Linked DNA regions of Homo sapiens: regions 1, 2 and 3 are each linked to region 4. The links come from fine-mapping of genetic effects on gene expression. A gene starts in region 4. Each other region holds a variant in brackets. All regions are shown on one strand. Distances are from middle to middle. Region 1 has its middle 90 kb from the start of SNX18. Region 2 has its middle 98 kb from the start of SNX18. Region 3 has its middle 72 kb from the start of SNX18. Region 4 holds the start of SNX18 (sorting nexin 18).

Region 1 (5,151 bases), 90 kb before region 4:
CGCTCCACCTCCCACCACGCTCCACCTCCAATGTGGGGGATTACATTTCAATATGAGATTTGGGCAGGGACAAACATCCAAACTATATCACCACGGCATGGCAATTTATTGACATATTGGCTCACGTTTGTCTTCCCTATACTTCTTTCTTTTCAATTTCAAGGAGGTAGCCAAATCCTTGGCATTTTTTTTATCTCAGCCCTTTTGCAGGGTGGGACAAATAGAAGGATTTGAGGCTTTTTCAGTTTTTTATGAAAATTAAGCTTTAGGGGGCTGAGGTGGGAGATCACTTGAGGCCAGAAGTTGGAGGCCAGCCTGAGCAACATAGCAAGACTCTGACTCTAAAAATAAGATATTATAAATAAATAAGTAAATAAATAGAAAATGAATACCATCATAGAGATTGCGGATGACGTCCCCAAGGAGAGATAAGATGTGTTTTGGGGACAACAAGAAAGGAAGAGAGATTTTCTTCAGGTGTTAGAAAGCCAAAAGAGAAGGATAAATCATAACCAAGAATGTGGCAGTACCCCCTAGGCTGTACTGCCCACCTCAATAGTTAATATCCATGTGTGGTTTTAAAGTTCTAAATTAATTAAAATTAAATATAATTAAAAATTCAGCTCCTCGGTGGCACTAGCTGCATTTTAAGTGCTCTATAGCCTCATATGTCTAGTGGCTACCATACTGGACAGAGTAGTTATGGAACATTTCCATCATTGCAGAAATTTCTACTGGACTGTGAGAAGGTGTCAAGACCTCAGAGGCTGTGAGGAAACATGGGAGATTAGATGCTCCCAACCTCATCACAGAGTCCTATGCACTAAGAACGGGGAATTAGCAGCTGAGCTGCCCAGCATGAGATATACAGGTTGGGACAATGGACTGGTGCTTTAGTGGAAAACAGTGTGGACCCACAGCTGTAAACTAGAGTGACAGTCTTCCCTGTGCCAGAGTGTTTAATAAGACCTAATGACCTTTACACACTTTGGAGGGCAGGGAGAGACACCAAGGGCTGAGTGTGAATTTCCCACCAGCCTAGGAGGATGGGTACTCAGATGATTTAAAGAAAATAAAGTGATGCACACTTGAATATAGGGAACTAAGATTAATACCTGCTACAGTCGTACACAACTATGCATACACATATACACCCCCACACAGACACACCAGTCATCCTTCCTTCTTCAACTGTTTATTTCAACACTGATTTCATAACACTATTTAAACAGCTCAGGCTATCTCCATATCCCAGTAAGTACTTGTCAGTACACAAACAGGTCACAATCCATTATTTAAAAAGCATGGCGGCTGGGTGTGGTGCCTTATGCCTGTAATTCCAGCACTTTGGGAGGCCAAGGTGGGAGGATTACTTGAGCCCAGGAGTTCAAGACCAGCTTGGGCAACATAGTGAGATCCCATTTCTATTTTTAAATAAGAAAACTTTAAAAATAATACAATAAAATAAAAAATAAAAAGCACAGTTCATATTAGAAAATGGGCAAAAGACATGAAGAGACATTTCACCAAAGAGGCTATACGGATGGCAAATAAGCACATGAAAAGATGTTCAGTACCATTAGCCGTTAGGGAAAGCCAAATTAAAGCCATAATATGACCACACACCTATCAGAAAGGCTAAAGAAAAAGATAGTGACCATATAAAATGCTGATGAGGATGCAGAGAAACTGGATCCCTCAAACATTGCTGATAGGAACACAAAATGGTACAACTACTCTGGAAAATAGTTTGGCAGTCTCTTTAAAAAGCAATTATGTAAGTACCATATGACCTAGCAATTGAACTCCTGGGCATTTAATCACAGGGAAAGGAAAACTTATGTTCACATAAAACCCTGCACATGAAGTTTACAGCAGCTTTATTTTTGTTTGTTTGTTTGTTTGTTTGTTTTGAGACAGTCTTGCTCGGTCACCCAGGCTGGAGTGCAGTGGCATGATCTTGGCTCACTGCAAACTCTGCCTCCCAGGTTCAAGCAATTCTCCTGCCTCAGCCTCCTGAGTAACTGGACCTACAGGCATCCACCACCACGCCCGGTTAATTTTTGTATTTTTTTGTGGAGATGGGGCTTTGCTATGTTGTCCAGGCTGGTCGCGAACTCCCGACATCAAGTGATCCGCCTGCCTCGGCCTCCCAGAGTGCTGAGACTACAGGCATGAGCCACAGTGCCTGGCCCATAGCAGCTTTATTTGTAATAGCTAAAAAGTGGAAAGGCCAGAAATGTCCTTCAACAGGTGAATGGTTAAACAAATTGTGATGCATACCTACCATGGAATACTATACAGGCAACAAATTGGATAAATATCCAAGAATTATGTTATTGTAGCCATTCTGTAGAAATAGGATAAATTCCCACCTAAACTATGGTTCAAATGATGACACCAGATAGACATCGAAAGAGTGTGAAAAGGTTTATTACGCACATAATGAGGTTTTCTGGAGACAGCTGGGAAAGCTTCCCAAACAGGTCCAAAAACAGCGTAAGAGAGCAGGGAAAGAAAACTGACTTGAAGTTTTCTTAGGCGTTGGGGAGTGGGGCTGGGGTGAGGGTTCCTGCACACAGGCGGGGGCCCACATGGTTGGAATCTCAGTGCCAACAGAAGAACCCAGGCTTTCTTATCAGCTTGCCCAGATGTGGGGCAAAATGGGAAATGAGAAGAGTGGGGTATAAAAGCTACTAGCAAACATCAGAAAATGGAGTCAGACTCATTATTATTACCCAGGAACCACACAAAGGCCTTTCTCAAAAGAATGCATACTGTATGCATCCATTTATATAACATTTTTGAAATGACATTTCAAAACTGGAGGACATATTTGTTAATGGTTGCCAGGGTATAGGGATGGGGTGGGTGAGGAAGGTAGGAGTGGTTGTAAATGGGCAAAATAAGGGATCCTTGTGATGTTGGAACTGTCAGTATCTTGACTGTGGTGGTGGATACACAAACCTATACAGGTGATAACATTTTATGGA[A/C]CTGTGCAATTTTCACACATACACACACGTGAGTACAAATAAAGCTGGGAAAATCTGAAAAAGATGGATGGATTGTAGTAATGTCAATCTCCTGGTTGTGATATTATACTAATGTTTTGTAAAATGTTACATTGGGAGAAACTGGGTGAAGAATACACGAGATCTAGCCGTCTGATTTCTTAAAATTGCATATAAACCTAGAATTATCTCCATGAAAATTGCAAATCGAAAAATGCTTAGATCAGAGAGGGAGAGTTCATTCAGATTACAGGACACTCTGGGGTGGGACGAAGAGCAAGAATGAGTGAATGCCTCTGAATTGAGCCAACTGACCCAGTGAACCACCTGGTCTCCCGAAGTCCTCTTCAACAATCCAATGGCCAACCAGAGGTCAGATGTCTTCATTATCATAAAGACCAAAAGTTGGGTAAATGTTTAGAGGGACTAACCTGGAAATACAAAGAAAGGCAAGATAAAATTCAGAGGCAGCCTAATAACTTGAAAACTGATTATTTTTATGATAGATGAATCAATAGCAAAAGAAGATTCATATAAGAATTATCTGATAACCATTTATACAGGGATGTCATTTACAATTCAGTCATTCACAAACTTTTTTAATGAAATGTTCCTTAACAATAGATGAGAGTAGATGTATGAATGGATGGATGTCTGGTGTGTAGCCACAGGCAGCCATCCAAAACCTGAAACGCCTGGAAAATCTATACAAATAGTACATTACACTGCATAATACATCTTTATTTATTGCAATATAAAAGTATGATTTTCAATATTGAATTTTATACTGTGTGTATTTTACCACAATTCAAAGGAAAGGAAGAAATGACTGTTAAAAAGTGGTGACATTTTTTTAAAGTGTCAAAATTAGGATGGGCGTGGTAGCTCACACCCATAATCCAAACGCTTTGGGAGGCAGAGGCAGGAGAATTGCTGGAGCCCAGAAGTTCAAGATTAGCCTGGTCAACAAAGTGATACCCTGTCTCTACAAAAAAAAGTTTTTAGATTTAGCTGGGTGTGTTGGCACATGCCTGTAGTCCTAGCTACTTGAGAGGCTGAGGCAGGAGGATCCCTTGAGCCCAGGAGTTCGAGGCTTCAGTGAGCTGCGATAGTGCCACTGCACTCCAGCCTGGGTGACGGTGCAAGACCCTGCCTCAAAAATAAATAAATAAGTTTCAAAATTGATCATAAAAAATCTCAATAATTTTTATGTTGATTATGTTAAAATAATACTATTCTGGATATCTTGGGTTAAATAAAACATATAATTAAACTTTTTAAAAAACATTGTTTTCAACTAAAAAATTAGTTAAAATTATGTAAAAAAGTTCAGTAATCTGAGCAAAATTTACTCCAAGAAGATGATTACTCTATGGCCCACGTGGTTCCTGGTACGTAACACACTACTGTGATAAGCGTGGCTTTACATTTTCTAAGATCTTCAAATTAAATATTGCTTTTTTTAAAAAAAAGTCTAAACCCCTAACTCTGAGTCTCTGCTGGTACTACTCTGGAACAATTTTGCTAGCTTTCCTCCCCATGAATGTCTATGACTTAAGTCCCAGGTAAAATGTTACCACTATGAATCCATCTAAAATTGCCCAAAACAGGATATATTTCCTCCTTCTCATGTTACTCAACTGCTTAAAATCCCCCAGAGAGTTCCTATTAAGGTAGAATAAAGTCCAGTAGAAGTCAGCCCTCATGCTGACTGGAAAAAGTCTCCTGCTTACATCTTAGATCTTACATTTTGATCACTCACCACCCCTCACACTTCCTCCACCAGAGGAAGACCAGAGGGTCTCCTTTCTGTTCCTCCAATATCCAGCCTGTGTCTACCTTCAGGTATTTGATCTTACAGTTTCATATTCGGGGACTGCTTTTCCTTCTGATTGTGCCTTACCTCTTTCTTATTCTTGACATTCAGATCTCAGCGTGGATGACACTCCTCAGAAAGGCCATCCCTAGACATCCAATCTAAAATCAATATCCAGTCATCCTCTTACCTTACCAGCATGTCATTTTTGGTTTGTCTGTTTATTGTGGCAAAATATACATCACAAATTTTGCCATTTTAACCATTTTTTAAAGTATACAATTCGGTGACATTAAGCATATTTACAATGTTGCACAACCATCA
Region 2 (5,151 bases), 98 kb before region 4:
TCAAGAAACTTACAATCATAGCAGAAGGGGAAGCAAACACATCCTTCTTCACATGGCGGCAGGCGAGAGAAGTGCCAAGCAAAGGGGGAAAAGCCTTGCAAAACCATCAGATCTCATGAGAACTCACTATCATGAGAACAGCAGCATGTGGGTAATGGCCCCTGTGATTCAATTACCTCCTACTGGGTCCCTCCCATGACATGTGGGGATTATGGAAACTACAATTCAAGATGAGATTTGGATGGGGACACAACCAAACTATGTCACCCTGGAATGCTGTTCCCCTTCCTCCATCATAATCCTCGCATCCCCCAATTTAGACCTTACCTCTTCCAGCATTTTCTCCATGGTTGACCTTACCCAAAGATAGGACTATTAACAGATTAGTCAATGGAGAATGAGCATGGTGGCTAATTCCTGTAATCCCAGCACTTGGAGAGGCCGAGGCAGGAGGAATTGCTTGAAGCCAGGAGTTGGAGACCAGGCTGGGCAACATAGCGAGACATCTGTCTCTATTTTAAAAAAAAGAAAAAGAGAGAGGGGAAAAAAGAGAGATTCATCAACAGAGACATGAACAAATCCTTTCCAGAACTTCACTCAGTGCTATAATTATCTTCTTTGTGGTGTATCTCCTAATCTACAACTTGTGTTTCTTGAGGGTCAAAACCATATTTTCTGTCTCTTTAGCACGCCTCTCTCCATCCCTCCCACAGTCTATTTCAATTCTCTGTTGAACACAGGACATCTTTAGTAATGCCACTGACAGACAAGGAGAATCTGAAAACTGAAAATTTTGAGAAGTTTTACTTGGGAGGGGGAAGTACACCATTTCTACCTTGCTTTCTAAGGAAATATTTTCTATAGAGTAGTAAAAAGCATGTTTTCACTTGTTGTTTTCCTGTGGAACCAAACAGGAGCTATAAGAACTACTAGTGGACAGGTTTATTTGCACTCAATATTCTGTTCTGTTCTGTTCTGCTATGCTTTTATGAATTTTAAAGGCAAGGAATTGTTCAGGTCAGGAATTCATCTGTCAAAATGCTTTATGCTGGAGCCCATGGAAAGGAGAGGCCTTGCGGCTTCACTGGTGAATTAACTGAGAGTTGGAACACTGCTGGTGTGTTTTGCTTTACCACTGACTTTCTTTGAAGGGGCCTTTGACGAAGTTGTTTACTCTCATTCATTGCCTCAGTGTTTATATCTCAAAATCAAGAGACCTCCTTCATGTCGAAGGAACTAGGGGAAGAAAGTTAAGTCTGTGACTCAGAGATAAAAACCAGCTTGATGTGATTGCAGGGGCCCTGGAGAGACTTCCCTGTCCCCAAATATCTCCCATTGGCTTGTCCCAGCACAGGAAAAGAAACCCCACAGTTACCTTGCATCTGAGTTTAGGCAGTGAGCACCTGGTTAAAACACAGGCAAGTTATGAAGGGAGATCTGACATTGTGTTTGCTTTTATTCTAAGATGCACATTTTTTTTTTCTTTTTTGAGATGGAGTCTTGCTCTGTCATCCAGGCTGGAGTGCAGTGGCATGATCTTGGCTTACTGCCATATCGGCCTCCTGGATTCAAGAGATTCTCGTGCCTCAGCCTCCCTAGTAGCTGAGATTACAGGCGCCTGCCACTTCGCCTGGCTAATTTTTTGTATTTTTAGTAGACACAGGGTTTCACCATATTGGCCAGTCTCGAACTCCTGACCTCAGGTGATCCACCTGCCTCAGCCACCCAAAGTGATGGGATTACAGGTGTGAGCCACCGTGCCTGGCCAAGATGCACATTTCTTTAATCTTTTAATACTTTTGAAATTGGGATGTGGTTTTACAATCAGAGTGAATAGTTAATGTAATAATGCATAGTCTATTTCTCCTGAAGAAGTAAGTTGTTATTAAATAGATAAGAACCACCTGGAAAATAGGGAAGCAGTATGGACACACTCCAGTGAGTGGGTGTTGAAAACTGACCCGAGCCAGATAGGTCATGTG[C/T]GGATGATTGCAACCTAGGAGTTGTTAAGTCAGAACTGCTAGCTATTCTTCTCCACAAATGTTACACAATCATGAACAAAGCAAGCCACTGGCCAAATTCTGCTGCATACACAGACGCTTGTTAACTAAATATTTGTTAGTGAGCAAGCAAAAAAGTGGTTCATATAATCTTCCTTGCAAAGTTCTCTAAGACAATTTCTGGGATTCCAGAGGCAGAATAATGCTGCCAGTTTAGCCAGCATTGAGCAACCAGAATCTCCCACAGTTTATGGCTAGGCCCAAGACCAGGTAAAGGCATCATTCTAAGAGTGCTGGATATTTTATTCATGCAAGAGTGGAGAGTCTCTAAGCTCTTTTAACTAGTCTACTTATCTTTATATTCACCAAACAGATCCCATTTCTAACTTTCATCATGTTAATCAACATGCCACTAATTTCACCTGTAAGAAACAATTCTGACATGAACTGTGCTAATTGGCAAAGCACCTGTTATTGAAGATACAAATAACATGTGCTTTGTCTGAGGATCATGCACATTTTTTTCCTCCAGAGCTACCCTATTAACTGAAGGATTGTGCACTCTTGTAGAGTCTAGAAACATTTGGTTAAAGCCCAAACTAGGTGGCATACCCAAGATAGGCACTGTATTTTCAGAAGCATTTAAAAATCTTAAGATGCATCAGACTGAAACACACATTGTGATACAATGCAAAGATATCGCTAAGAGAAATAGGCAGTGGGGTTTGAGAGCATGAAAGCAGTGACTAAGTCTGTCTATCAGACTGGGAAGTGAGGGGGCAAGGGTAGAACATCCTTACAGAGGAGATGACCCAAGCTGGATTTTTAAAAGAGAGTAGGAATGCATGAGGCAGACTTGGGGTACACCCAGCAAAGGGAAGCAGTAGGGGCACAAGCCCAGAGGATGAGAAGCTAGTCTAGGGTGGGTAGACTACAGGCATGTGAGAGAGGAGACAGGCTAGAATTGTAGCTGGGAACTAGACAGAACCTTCTAGATCATGCTCAAGAATTTTCTCTTTACCTGGTAGACATCTGGAAGTCGAGAGACAAAAATATTTTACCTACTACAATTTTGGCTTGGAACATGAATGATCGTATTGTTAGACCAAAATGGATCCCACAAGGGTCAGGCTTCCTCCCAGACCTCTCTAACTGAAGCTCCAGAGCCCTGAACATCCCCTCCATCTATAATGTTTTTTCCATAAAAACCAAAGCAGAAGGAGTATGTTTCCTAGAGTCATGTACTGGTTGGGTGAGTTGGACAAGTTTCTTAATCTCTCTGATCCTCAATGTCCTCATCTGTAAAATGTGAATAATTATACCTTTTTCTTAGGGTGTTGTTAAGAAGTTTAAGTTAGTGTGTACGACAGTTTAAGTTAGTGCTTAAGACAGTACCTGGAATAGAATACTCAACTAATTTTATTTTTAGTGTCTATGTCTTTTAAATATTTTTAAAAGATTTAATCACCCAGGCTTGACTGATGTGATCTTGGCTCACTGCAACTTCCACCTCCTGAGCTCAAGTGATCCTCCCACCTCAGCCTCCAGAGTGAGTATCTGGGACTATAGGCACACACCACCACGACTGGCTAATTTTTATTTCTTTATTTTTTTGTAGAGATGGGGTTTTGCCATGTTGCCCAGGCTGATCTTGAACTCTTGAGCTCAAGCAATTTACCTGTCTCAGCCTCCCAAAGTGGTGGGATTACAGTCATGAGCCACTGCACCTGGCCCTTAAATCTTTCTCATTATTTTTCCTTGCTTATGAATTCTTAGAAAGAACATGTATATTATACAAGTAGTACTTTATCTCACTATAATTACAGATTACTAATCACTGATCTTGTTCCATAAATCTTACTCTAAACTGTTTTAAAATCTAGAAGTTTAGCTCTGAGGCTTCTGAGCCTAATAAAACCCCACAAACCCCTCTTATCTGCCTGCTGGTCTTATCAGGGAGATGCTCTTTTTGTTTCCAGCAGGGCCTAGTTTTCCATTTCTAGACCCAGAACCAACAACAGAATTGCAGATTCCAGCTCCAAAGTTTTTTCTCCTCCCTAAGTCTTTGAGAACCATGATGGCCAATGGGCTGGCAGGACTGCTTTCCGTTATCTTTATCAAAACATTTTAACTTCAATGCCCTTGGCAACTTTTGTTCAGGAGAAACATTTCTTTTGCTAATGAAGAACATGCTCAAAATTATCCCAACCATATTCTTATCTCATGCAGCCCTTCACCTCAGAACACCAAACTTGGGTTCTTAAAAGAGTGCAGTGGCTCACGCCTATAATCCCAGCACTTTTGAGAGGCCGAGGCAGGCAGATCACCTGAGGTCGGGAGTTCGAGACCAACCTGACCAACATGGAGAAACCCCATCTCTACTGAAAATACAAAATTAGGGCATGGTGGCACATGCCTATAATCCCAGCTACTCGGGAGGCTGAGGCAGGAGAATCACTTGAACCCAGGAGGCGGAGGTTGCAGTGAGCCGAGATCGCACCATTGTACTCCAGCCTGGGCAACAAGAGCAAAACTCCGTCTCAAAAAAACAAACAACAAAAAAAGAGGGCCTTAGCCTTTTACTGATTGATTAAAACAAGAAGTTCACACTTTCATCTGGGACAACAAACTATAGCCACCAGCATTTTGAATCAAATTTAAATTCCTGCTTGGGTTTGAATGTGTCCTCCAAAGTTCTTGTGTTGGAAACATCCCCAATGCAACAGCACTGAGAGGTGAGACCTTTAAGAGATGAGTAGGTCATGAGGGTGAAGAGGCAGAGCCCTCCTGGATGGATTAAGGCCTGTATTGCAGGAGTGGCTTCCGGATAAAAGCATGAGTTCAGCCCCTTCCCTCTTTCTCTCATGTGCGTGATCTCTTGACCTTCTGCCTTCCTTCATGGGATGATGCACCGAGAAGCCCTTGCCAGATGCCAGCCCTTCAACCTTGAACGTCCCAATCTTTAGAACTGTAAGAAATAAATCTCTGTTCTTATAAATTACGTAGTTTCAGGAATTCTGTTATAGAAGCATAAAACGAACTAAGATAATCCCTATAGGCAGAGTTTTTGCTGCTACCCAAGTTGCCGTCAGCCCAGTATTTCCCAATTATGGCATACCCAACATCTCACATTGGTACCCACCTGCCCTTG
Region 3 (5,151 bases), 73 kb before region 4:
CAGTGAAAGTGTCCGTGGGTCCAGAGCTAACCAGTGCCAGGCAACCATTGAGAATTAGATCTGTCTTGCACATTCAGGGAAGCCATGTGTCCACAAATGGAGAGCAATTTGTTGTCCATGGGCTTTGATTTCACAAGTGCTAGGAGTTAGTTACTTCTAGAAGAATTCCTGGCACCTCTGTAACACCCATCTGAGAAGAGTGTCGTGAGGTGGAGGCAGCTCAGGTGAGATGAAGAAAAGAAGGGAAGGTTGATTCTGGAGTTGTGGAGGCCAAATTCGGCAGATCTCACATGAAGTGTCCCAGGTCACCATGTGTGGGAAGGAAGTGGGAGGCGAGGGTATAGTAAAGGGGCAGATGAAGAAAAGCAATAGCTCCCCTCTGGCACATTTCCCAAGTGAAGCCTTTTGAACAATTTTGAAAGTGATATGTTGCCATCACATTTGTTAAAGACCATAAGAGCCACTAGCCTGACTTTTGCTTTCACAGGGCACCTTATGATTAATAAACAATTGAAATATGGACAGAGTAAGCAAAGTACAGAAGGTAGTTATATCAGCCAGGATAGGCCAAGATATTTGTTAGCAACAAACAATCTCCAAAACTCGTAGTGGCTTAAAACAACAAATATTTATTTCTTGCACATGCAAAGCTCATTGGGGGTCAGGGTGACTCTCCTCAGGTGACAGCTCAATGATCCAGGATTCTTTGCTCTTGTGGCACCTCTGTCTAAAAACACATTTGTATGCACTGCTCTGACAACTGTGACTGGGGCAAAGTGTGGAAGCTCTTAATTCTTATGCCAATGCAAGTCACATGGTTACACCTAACTTCGAAAGGGCAGAAAAGATATTTCTCTTTCTACTAGGAGGTAAAGGAGAACATTAGTGACATCTACCACAGTAGTCAAAGGGGGACATCATTTTGAGTGCTCACAGTGCCACCAACAAATGGTGCAAGCTTTCCTGCCCACCTTCCCTTGCATGGCTCTGTGCTCAGCACTTTGCAGCCAAAGGTCCAAGACAGGCTGAGCATGGTGGCTCACACCTGTAATCCCAGCACTTTGGGAGGCCAAGGCAGGAGGATTGTTTGGGCCAAGGAGTTCGAGACCAGCCTGGGCAATATAGCAAGACCCCATTGCTACAAAAAGTAATAATACAATTTAAAAATTAGCCAGGAGATGTACAGCAGGCCTGTAGTCCCAGCTACTCTGGGGGCTGAGGTGGGAAGATTGCTTGAACCCAGGAGGTTGAGGCTGTAATGAACTATGATCACACCACTGCACTCTAGCCTGGCTGACAGAACAAAAGCGTGTCTCAAAAAAACAAAACAAAACAAAAAAAAAACCCAAAAAACAAAAAAGCAAGGTCTGGGTCAAATCTCAGAATGTGGTCAAGAGTGGTACCTTTAGGTGTTTATTCCTGTAATTTATGGAAGCTGACAGTGCTTCTGAGACAGGGAGAGAGATGAGGACATCAGGGGAAGGAAGAAAAAAGGAGAAGTGAGGGGGGATGGGGAGGATGAGCTGAACTTCACTTACTTTACTCTGTTTCTTTAGCTTTCACTAAGCCATGCCAGTGAGGGGAGAATTCATATCAAATGAACATTTACTCATCATGCACCAAGTGGCGAGCGTCAGGCAGGAGATAACCATGCCATGCTTCCTGCCCTCATGGAGCTCAGGATCTAGGGAGGAAGGGAGACCAGTAAGCAAGCAACGGATTACACACTAGCCGTGTGGACAGGATGCCGAAGCAGGGGACTGTCTGAGAAAAAAGGGCTTGGGTTTGAAACATGTCATCATACTTTTTTTCAAAAATGTATTTTCCTTCCCATTTAATGTCTGCTTAGTTGGATATCTAAATAGGTTTGCATTTTTGGAATAAAGACCAAAGATTGGGGTTGGGGTTGGGGAGAGCTAGTCAGGTATAAGTAGGGGGTCACTGACCAGGGCGAAATCCACATCACCTGCACTAGCTACACTCCTGCCAGTAGCTGTCAGATCAAAAGCAATGATCACATGGATCTGGCTTAGGGAGACAGGCCTTATCTGTTGCAGTTTCTGCTCAAAAGAAACCAATAATCTGACTTAGGCTTTAACAAAGAATGGCACTAAAACAAAAGGGGCTTAGGGAAGTGATTCAGAGTAGGATTCTCAACTATTTCAGTTACTAGAAATGCCCCCCGTCTAGAACTACATAAATCAAACACCCTCTGCTGGACTCAACTCCTCACAGAAGCTGACACATCTGACAGCATTGGAAATACTCCTTTTGGCCTTACTAGCCAGCATCAGAGGGAATGGATTGCTATCTCATTTGAATTTCTAACTACTGAAACATATTGGAAGAAGTCAACTGGAAGAGGCCATGTCTACTTTACCTCAAGAGGAAAGTGGCTACAGTTTGCCTTAAGACTTGGAGAGGGCTGGGTGCAGTGGCTCACGCCTATAATACCAGCACTGTGGGAGGTCCAGACAGGAGGATGGCTTGAGGCTAGGAGTTTGAGACCAGCCTGAGCAACATAGTAAATGCACATCTCCACAAAGAATTTTAAAAATTAGCTGGTCATGGTTGTGTGTGCCTGTAGTCCCAGCTACTCGGGAGGCTGAGGTGGGAGAATGATCTCGCCACTGCATTCCAGCTTAGTTGAGAGAGCAAGACTCTGTCTCAAACAAAGACGTGGAGAGAAAACTTCTCTGTAGGAGTTAGAAGAGAATCAATATCACAGGGCCCTGGTTTCCTCTAGTTTTGCAGAATCCATTGACTGGGCATTTCCCCCTCTGGCCAGTAGAAGTAATATTAGAGCAGCATCTTCACTTTCAAAGGTCAGCTTTGGGAAGGAAACGACTTCTCTTCCAAGCTCACGGCCTGTTGGGCACCCCCATAGAGTTTGGCTTTAGGTGCTTGCCGAAGGTTAAATGATTTTCATACCTGACTAATTCTTTGTACTTCAAATTCTTTCTTCATTTTGAAATATACCTCTTAAGTGGTTTAGAGGACTCAACCTATCGTGCAACCAAAACTTTGCTTTTTACCCCACTTCTTTAATGTTCCCTGAAGGGGAATGGAATTTTTTCCCTT[A/G]AGTTAAGAAGGCATATGTGTGGTGAGGGGAGAAAAGCTGGCCCTCGTGCCTCAGGGTTTGCCACACAAGCAAATATAGCTCCTTCAACAAGGCACAGCTTGGGCAGAGACACAGGGGTCTCTGGAAGGGAAAGGCCACAGGGATCATGGAGGGCAGCTGCCCTGAGAGCCGGCAGCTAGTGAAATGGAACAAATTACTAGGCAGAAGGAAAGAAATGAGAGGAAAAGGGATGCAACTTAGAGGACTGGCCTGGGGGAACAGAAGGTGACCGCAGGGCAGGGGGTTGGGGGTGTCAATGTATATGTGCAACTTTCAGGTTAAACTGCCTAGTCATATTTTCACTTTTGTCTTAATAGTTTCAACCTTCTATAAGATAAGATTAGTGTGCTCTTAAAGCTCTGAAATCATAGTGGTTTAAAGACAATAGAAGTTTATTTTTCTCTTATATAAACAGTCCAGAGCTAGTATAGTTGCTCCACAGACATGGTTCCCAAACTATGCACCCAGGCACCACAGGATACCATGGTAAATTTTTCTTATTCAAAGAAAATTCAGTGATACCTTGACATTTGTCATATTACTAGCTTGAGGTAGTTCAGAGTTCAAACCTCAGATCTTGTTACATTCTCTTTGATGATATCATACCTTTGCAAAGCTGGGTTTTCAGTGGCTGGTCTGATAAAATGCAAGTAAATGACAGTACTGTTACCCAATGTGATCCCAAGGTTTGAGAAGGTGTACAGTGCTCAACAGGTGCACGCATCCCACTAGTAAGTGATTGTGGTTATTTAAGAACAGAAATAAGAGCTGGGTGCGGTGGCTCACGCCTGTAATCCCAGCACTTTGGGAGGCTGAGGTGGGTGGATCATGAGGTCAGGAGATCGAGACCATCCTGGCTAACATGGTGAAACCCCATCTCTACTAAAAATACAAAAAATTAGTTAGGCGTGGTGGTGGGTGCCTGTGGTCCCAGCTGCTCGGGAGGCTGAGGCAGGAGAATGGTGTGAACCTGGGAGGCAGAGCTTGCAGTGAGCTGAGATCACGCCACTGCACTCCAGCCTGGGTGAAAGTGAGAGACTCCGTCTCAAAAAAAAAAAAAAAAAAAAAAAAAAAAAAAAAAAAAAAGAATAGAAATAACAGTATTTTTTCTTTCAATGTATTTGAATTATTTTTTTTTCAAATGACTTCTAAGTTGTTAGGACATAGCAAATTGCTTAGATACAACTGCCTAGAAACAGAATTTTTAGGCATTCTTTTGGCCTAGAGTCAATATGAAAAAATTATGGCGACACTATACTATGAAACGAGAGTGTTTGGGAACTTCTGCCACTGAGTACTGGTGTCAGAAATCCAGATTTCCTTGATTGGGTTGCTTGGATTCCCTAGAAGATTGGCTTCTTCCGCAACTTGTCCTCCTTCTATGAAAGGAGAAAGGGCAAAAGGGGTGTACACCTTCCTCTCATGGACACAACCTGGCAGATGGCCTCATCACATTCGTTCACAATCCATTGTCCAGGATGTCATCTTATGCCCACATCTAACTGCAAGGGAAGCACAGACAGTCACACTGTATCCTTGATGGCCACGTGCCTTAAAAAATATTGGGGATTTTGGTGCTGTGCACAAAAGTGAAAGAATGGAAATAGGTGACCACTTGTAGTCTCTACCACAGACCATCTGAATTGAAAGCAATGGTGCTGTACCCCTCCACTCTTAATGAATGGTGGTGTTTTCAACATCATATTAACTGCCAAGTGAACTAAAGAAGAGCAGCAGGCTCTGAGAGCATTGCAGGGTTCAGTAGAAGGGATTGGAACACTGGCAGCACCAACAATGAGTGCATGCCGTGTGCAGGTGCAAGTAATTGGGCACCACGGAGAGAAAGGACATTAAGGAGTTTTTTGCTTTTGGAAGTTATTGACAAGTTTTTAGTCTATAGAGATGAAAACATTAATTCACCTTTGGAGCACAGTCCTTTATTCTGGTAAGAGCAATTCTCTTTTCCAGCAGAAGACGCAATAGATTATGTCTTTGCCTTGGCCAGGGACTATTATTTATATACTGTTGAT
Region 4 (5,151 bases):
CCTCGTCTCAAGATTACAGATTTGAGCAGCTCATTACTCAACTATTCAAACTCTAAAATGATAGCACTGTCATCAAAGGTACTCTTTGAACCTTCGAGAAAGAGTACTCATTCCCTAATGCAAGATACTCGAGGAGGAAGCTGCCTGTCGAGCAATCCAACTTACACTCTAGGGAAAAGACCCAGGCGTCCACGTCTCTGCTCGCTTCCTCACCTGTAGAATATGATTCTGAAACCCACAGTGGTACTGCTGTCAAAGTCGCCCCTTTCAGCCTGCACAATACACTCCATATCACCTGCTCTAAGGGCCAGGCTTTACCTTTCTGAACGTGGATGATGTCCGGGAAGTTAGCCAGATGCCCCTGATACAGCGCTAATAGGTCCATGACGGGATCCAGGTCCTGCCTGGGCTGCTCCGCGAAGAGCTCGCCAATGGCGTCATAGGCATCTCCGGTGAAGGCGATAGCCTGGTTCAGGCCCACCGAGAAGGCCTGCTGGTCCAGCTCAAAGGCCTGGCTGAGGCCGCGGAAGGACTGGCCCACCTTCTGATACTCCTTTTTGAAGCCGGTCACCTGCTTGCGCGCGAACTCGTTGGCCGTGTGGTTGAGCTGCAGCGCGCTGTCGTCCATCTTCTTGGTGAAGCACTTGAAGCCGTCGATCTTGCTCTCCACCTCCTGCAGGTCAAGGGCAGCGGCGGGGGGCGTGCTAAGGGTCAGGAAGAAGTTGGCGCCCACCATCTCGTCCTTCTCGGCCTTCCTCTTGCCCTGCTTCCAGGCTTTCTCGTCGGTGCTGCTGGGGCACGTCAGGAAGTGCTGGAAGACGTCGCACTGCGCCAGCACTGGGTGGCTGGCCATGTGGTTCATCCACCAGATCAGGCCCTTCCTGCGCTTAGAGATGAAGTCCTCCTCGAAGCGGCCGGTGGCCTGCTTCTCGGGCAGGTGGGGCACGGAGATGACCGGGAACTTCTCCGCCAGGCGCGCGTACAGCCAGTCGAAGTGCTTGTAGCGCCGATGCACCGGCACCTGCGTGTGCGTGGGCACCAGCTTGTAGGAGATGTAGCTCTTCATGCCCTTGAACTTGGTCTGCTTGGTGGGGTCGTCGATGGTGCACTGGAACGGGTAGGGGTTCTCCTGCCACTCGGGGCCATAGGGCCCCAGCACCACGCACAGCTTGTCCCCGTCCTTCACGAAGCCTGACGCCTCCCCCAGCACGAAGGCCTCCCCGCCGGACTTGACGAAGGTGGAGAAGCGATTGAGGTTGCGGCTCACGGTGGCCGAGCTCTTGGGCCCCGACGGGTGGTGCTGCGGGGGGACCGAGCCGCCGCGGGAACCCAGGGACAGGTCGGAGCGCGTGGACAGGCGGTAGCGGCCGGCTGCGCCCACACCCGCCGAAGACGAGCCGTCGAGGTCCGGGTATGCTCCGCTGCCCAGAGCGCCCGGCTCGTCCGCCACCGTGGAGCTGTCGTCCCACTCGTCGTCCCAGTCATCATCGCTGCCTTGGCTGGCCTGGTAGCCGCCGTAGAGCTGCTGAGGCGACGGCTGCAGGGCGCCCCCGCCGTACGGGAAGCCCGCGCCGGGCGGCTGGAAGGTGCTCGGAGGCGGCGCCTGCTGTGGCTGCAGCAGCGCCTGGAAGGCGTCAGGCGGCGGCTTGAAGGAGGCGGGGGGCGCGACAGGCAGGGGCTCGAAGCCCCCGGGGGGCACATTGGCGTAGCGGGCCGGGGCGCCCGGGCCGCCGTCTCCCGCCGGGCCAGGCTCGGGGGCGCGGATCACCTGCACATAGGAGGCCGGGAAGAGGCCGCGGTCGCCGCGGCTGTTGACCCCCTCGAGCCAGCCCTCGATGTCCTGCTCGCTGCACAGGCTCAGCACCTCGTGCTCTCGCAGCGAGATCTCTCCTGGGTTCTCCGACCTGAAGTCGTACAGCGCCCGGGCGCGCAGCGCCATGGTCCCGGCGCCCCGACTGGCGGTCCCGACTCCCGGCGTCCCGAGCCGAGGCCCACCTGAGGGGCCCGCGGTACTGCTCGAGCCCTGGCGCGCGGACTGGAGCCCCGAAGGCGGCAAACCCACGCTGCCCGGACCAGCCGGTCGCGCCCTCCGCGCGGCTCCGCTCGCAGCGCCTCCACTTCGCAGCGCCGACTGCCGCGCTGGGCCGCCGCAGCCGCCGCCGGTCGGGGGCGGGGCCCGCGGCCTCCCACGTCTCCAGCTGCGCTAATCCACGGCCGAGAGCCCCTTGCCAGGCGAGAGCAAGCGATGGCCGAGCCGCCGAGCCCACCGCCCGCGTCGGCTTTGCGGCGGCCACTGCCCTCTAGTGGCCGGTGCCGCGAAGCCGGGCGCCGTAGTGAGCGCGGCTGAAGGAGGTTTCTACTCCGAAGTGAATTATCTGAGATTTCTTTAGGCTTTTAAGTTAAACATTCTCTAGAAAGTAAGTTAGCATTTGCATGCCTGATAAACGTTCCCACTCTGAGCGCTCAGTGAATGCTCCTAGAATGGCAACCCAGTCATGTAATAAAGCATTTTGCAATGCGAATTAGTGATTGCACTAAGAAAACAGGATGCCTCTGCGGAGGAGCTGTTCACCTACAGAGCAGGCTCCCTTCCCTCTTCTGCTCAAGGAGAGGAGATTGGCAAGAACAAAGTAAGGGCCAGGGAAGGTGCTGTGATTGACAAAATTAGAAGCAAAGGATCATGTAGAGAGGGAGGAGCTGGAGAGTTTCCAGTACAATAAATGCTCACACATTTATTACATGCATGTGTCGCCTATCCTCCCATAGATATATGTAGTGCGGTGAATGAGAGCTCAAACTTCGGAGCCAGGCTTCTGAATTTCAATCTGTGTTCTGACACTACCTAGCTGTATGACCTGGAACAAGGCACTTATATCGTACCTACCTCCGGGGGTTGTTGTGGGGATTCCATCATAAAGTAATCCCTATTTTACAGATGAGGAAAGTGAAACAATATCTGGCAGGGTAAGCAGATTTGAAGGGTTTGTTGCTGCTTTTGCTGCTGTTACTGTTATTTGGGGGAAGCAAAATCCCTGGCCTCTTTCACAAAGGGAATAGGGGTACTAAACTAACAATTGCAGGGTACATGCACCAGGAAGCGTCCCAATGTTCACATTGCCACTCCTAGTAAGAGGTCAGTGACCATCCATCCATCTGTTGTCTCTATGTCTCACTATATTTATATTATTTTTAAGATAAATAGAACAAAAATCACTTCCTGAAATAATCAGCTCCAATCTATCGTTGCCTTGTTTCCTATCTTCCTTTCCTTCAGTGTATAATTTGCCCAAAGCTTTTTCTTCTCTTAATCCCCTCTTATTAAGTCTAGCCTAATTATTCCTTTGAAGACACTTCTAATTGAGGTTCTGCATTCATGTGTCATTAATTTCAGCCTGTCCTCTGACCCTTTTCAAGGAAACCTGGGAAACGGGCCAGAAGAGTGTACAATTATTCTAAGGGCTGTGGTATTGTAAGCATCTTGCACAAAAACACAAACCCACTATACCAGAATCACTCCCACAGTGTTTATCCTAATGCAAAACCTTAATTCAATTCAGTAAGCATATTCTAAATTACATTTTTAGCTGAAAATTCTGGGTTTTGACTATTCTCACAGTAAGCAACAGGGATCATTGAATTTCAATGCCAACATTTCATGTGGTCAGAAACATGAAGTCCACATTAACTAAACCTCTAGAATATGACTCATTTTACTTCTGAAAAGCTAACCTAGAATATGTAAGATAAATAAATTTAGTTTCGCCCCTTCTGTTCGTTTAGTAGTTACTTTTTAGATTAGAGTTAAGTACAGTAACTTTGGGCTTATTTCAGGTGTGAAAATTCCAGGAGTTTAAGGTGATGATTTTTTACAGACTGGTTGAGCTACTCTGTAGAAATGGTGGTTGAGGAATTATTGGGTGTCCAAGGTTGTTTGTAGCACTGGGGCATGGGCGTCTGCAGGTGCTTACTTTGTAGGAGTCCAGTGGGAGGCCTCTGTGCTTGCCGCGCATCAGGCTTCCAGAAGGATGAGGACAGGCTGTCATGATGTTTGGCCCTATGGCCACTAGTGGCAGGAAAACCCCTACCTCTAGAGGGTCTTAGATATGTAGAAAATTGTGCTCCAGTATTAACAACCTATAACTGTTCACTCAGGGAAATAGATACAGTAACACATTTTGTAAAGATTTCTCTAGAAAATGGAGCATATTATTCACAGTTTAGTTTACACAATCATTATAACCACCCATATGCTTCTGTAAAGTTTTTAGGGGACACTAAATGACCCCAAACAATTGCATTTTCTTACTTCCTCCCTTGGCCTGAGAGGCCTTAGATAGCCTGGCCCTTGGCTATCTTTCCAGCCCCCTTTTCCACTGAAAGAAGCCACAGTGGTTGCTTTGCTATTTTTGGGACAAGTCAAGCACGTTTCTTGCTGAAGTTTTTGCCTTCGCTTTTCTCTCTCCCTGGAGCCCTCTTCCCCGGGAGATCCACCATGCCACATCATCGCTTCATTCGGTCAGAACCATGGGGCTTTCCATCCCTCCTTTCTTCTCCTTCCTTGGAGATACCGGAAGACAGAGGGAGCCTGGGTCCCTGAGTCACCGACCCCAATCATACTTTGTGAGAGAAAAATCCTTTGTCCGACTAAGCCACTGAAATTTCAGAGATTGCTGAGGCAGCTGGTACTAATTATGCTAATATAATCTCCCTCCCTCCCTCCCATCCCCTGTCCATCCCACAGTCTCACTTTTCTTTGTAGCAACTATGACCTAAGATAAACACGTCTATACATTAACGGCCTCCCCTATTACAACATAAACCTTTTCAGGGCAATGAGGTTTTCTGAGCACTGAGGATATAGCAATGAACAAAACAGACATGTTAGGCAACCAGTTAGTATTTGTTAGATGAATGAAAGAATGTCCACTTACATCCTCCCTAGATGAAGTCAGCTCTCTCCAGTAGCTCTTATTGTGTCTGGGTCAGCTTGCCTGGTGCCCTCTGCCACCCAGCTGTAACTGTTTCTAAGGCAGCTAAGTAACACTCCTCTTTAAATCAACAACGTTAAAGGTAACACAACCACCCAGAACACCACTGCAAATTTTCAGATTGTTAGAAATTTCACTATTACAGAGTGGGTCATTATTAAAA

The links. PIP is the estimated chance that this variant, and not a neighbour inherited with it, causes the effect.
Region 1: its variant is the best candidate, but not a certain one, in a credible set for the expression of SNX18 in whole blood (INTERVAL, PIP 0.60).
Region 2: its variant is the best candidate, but not a certain one, in a credible set for the expression of SNX18 in whole blood (TOPMed, PIP 0.72).
Region 3: its variant is the best candidate, but not a certain one, in a credible set for the expression of SNX18 in thyroid (GTEx, PIP 0.65).

Annotation. Positions count from the first base shown.
Region 1 is chr5:54,604,694-54,609,844 of GRCh38, reverse strand. It overlaps a transcript of SNX18 not described here. Among named protein-coding and RNA genes, the nearest start is that of SNX18, 90 kb to the right of the region's middle. The variant A/C (reference allele first, on the strand shown) is at 2,994.
Region 2 is chr5:54,613,107-54,618,257 of GRCh38, reverse strand. It overlaps a transcript of SNX18 not described here. Among named protein-coding and RNA genes, the nearest start is that of SNX18, 98 kb to the right of the region's middle. The variant C/T (reference allele first, on the strand shown) is at 1,983.
Region 3 is chr5:54,587,363-54,592,513 of GRCh38, reverse strand. It overlaps a transcript of SNX18 not described here. Among named protein-coding and RNA genes, the nearest start is that of SNX18, 72 kb to the right of the region's middle. The variant A/G (reference allele first, on the strand shown) is at 3,082.
Region 4 is chr5:54,514,741-54,519,891 of GRCh38, reverse strand. SNX18 (sorting nexin 18) reads right to left here and starts at 2,133. Exons shown (of 2, transcript NM_001102575.2): 1 at 319-2,133. The coding sequence starts at 1,939. RefSeq lists an enhancer at 281-1,225 and silencers at 1,698-2,257, 2,138-2,379.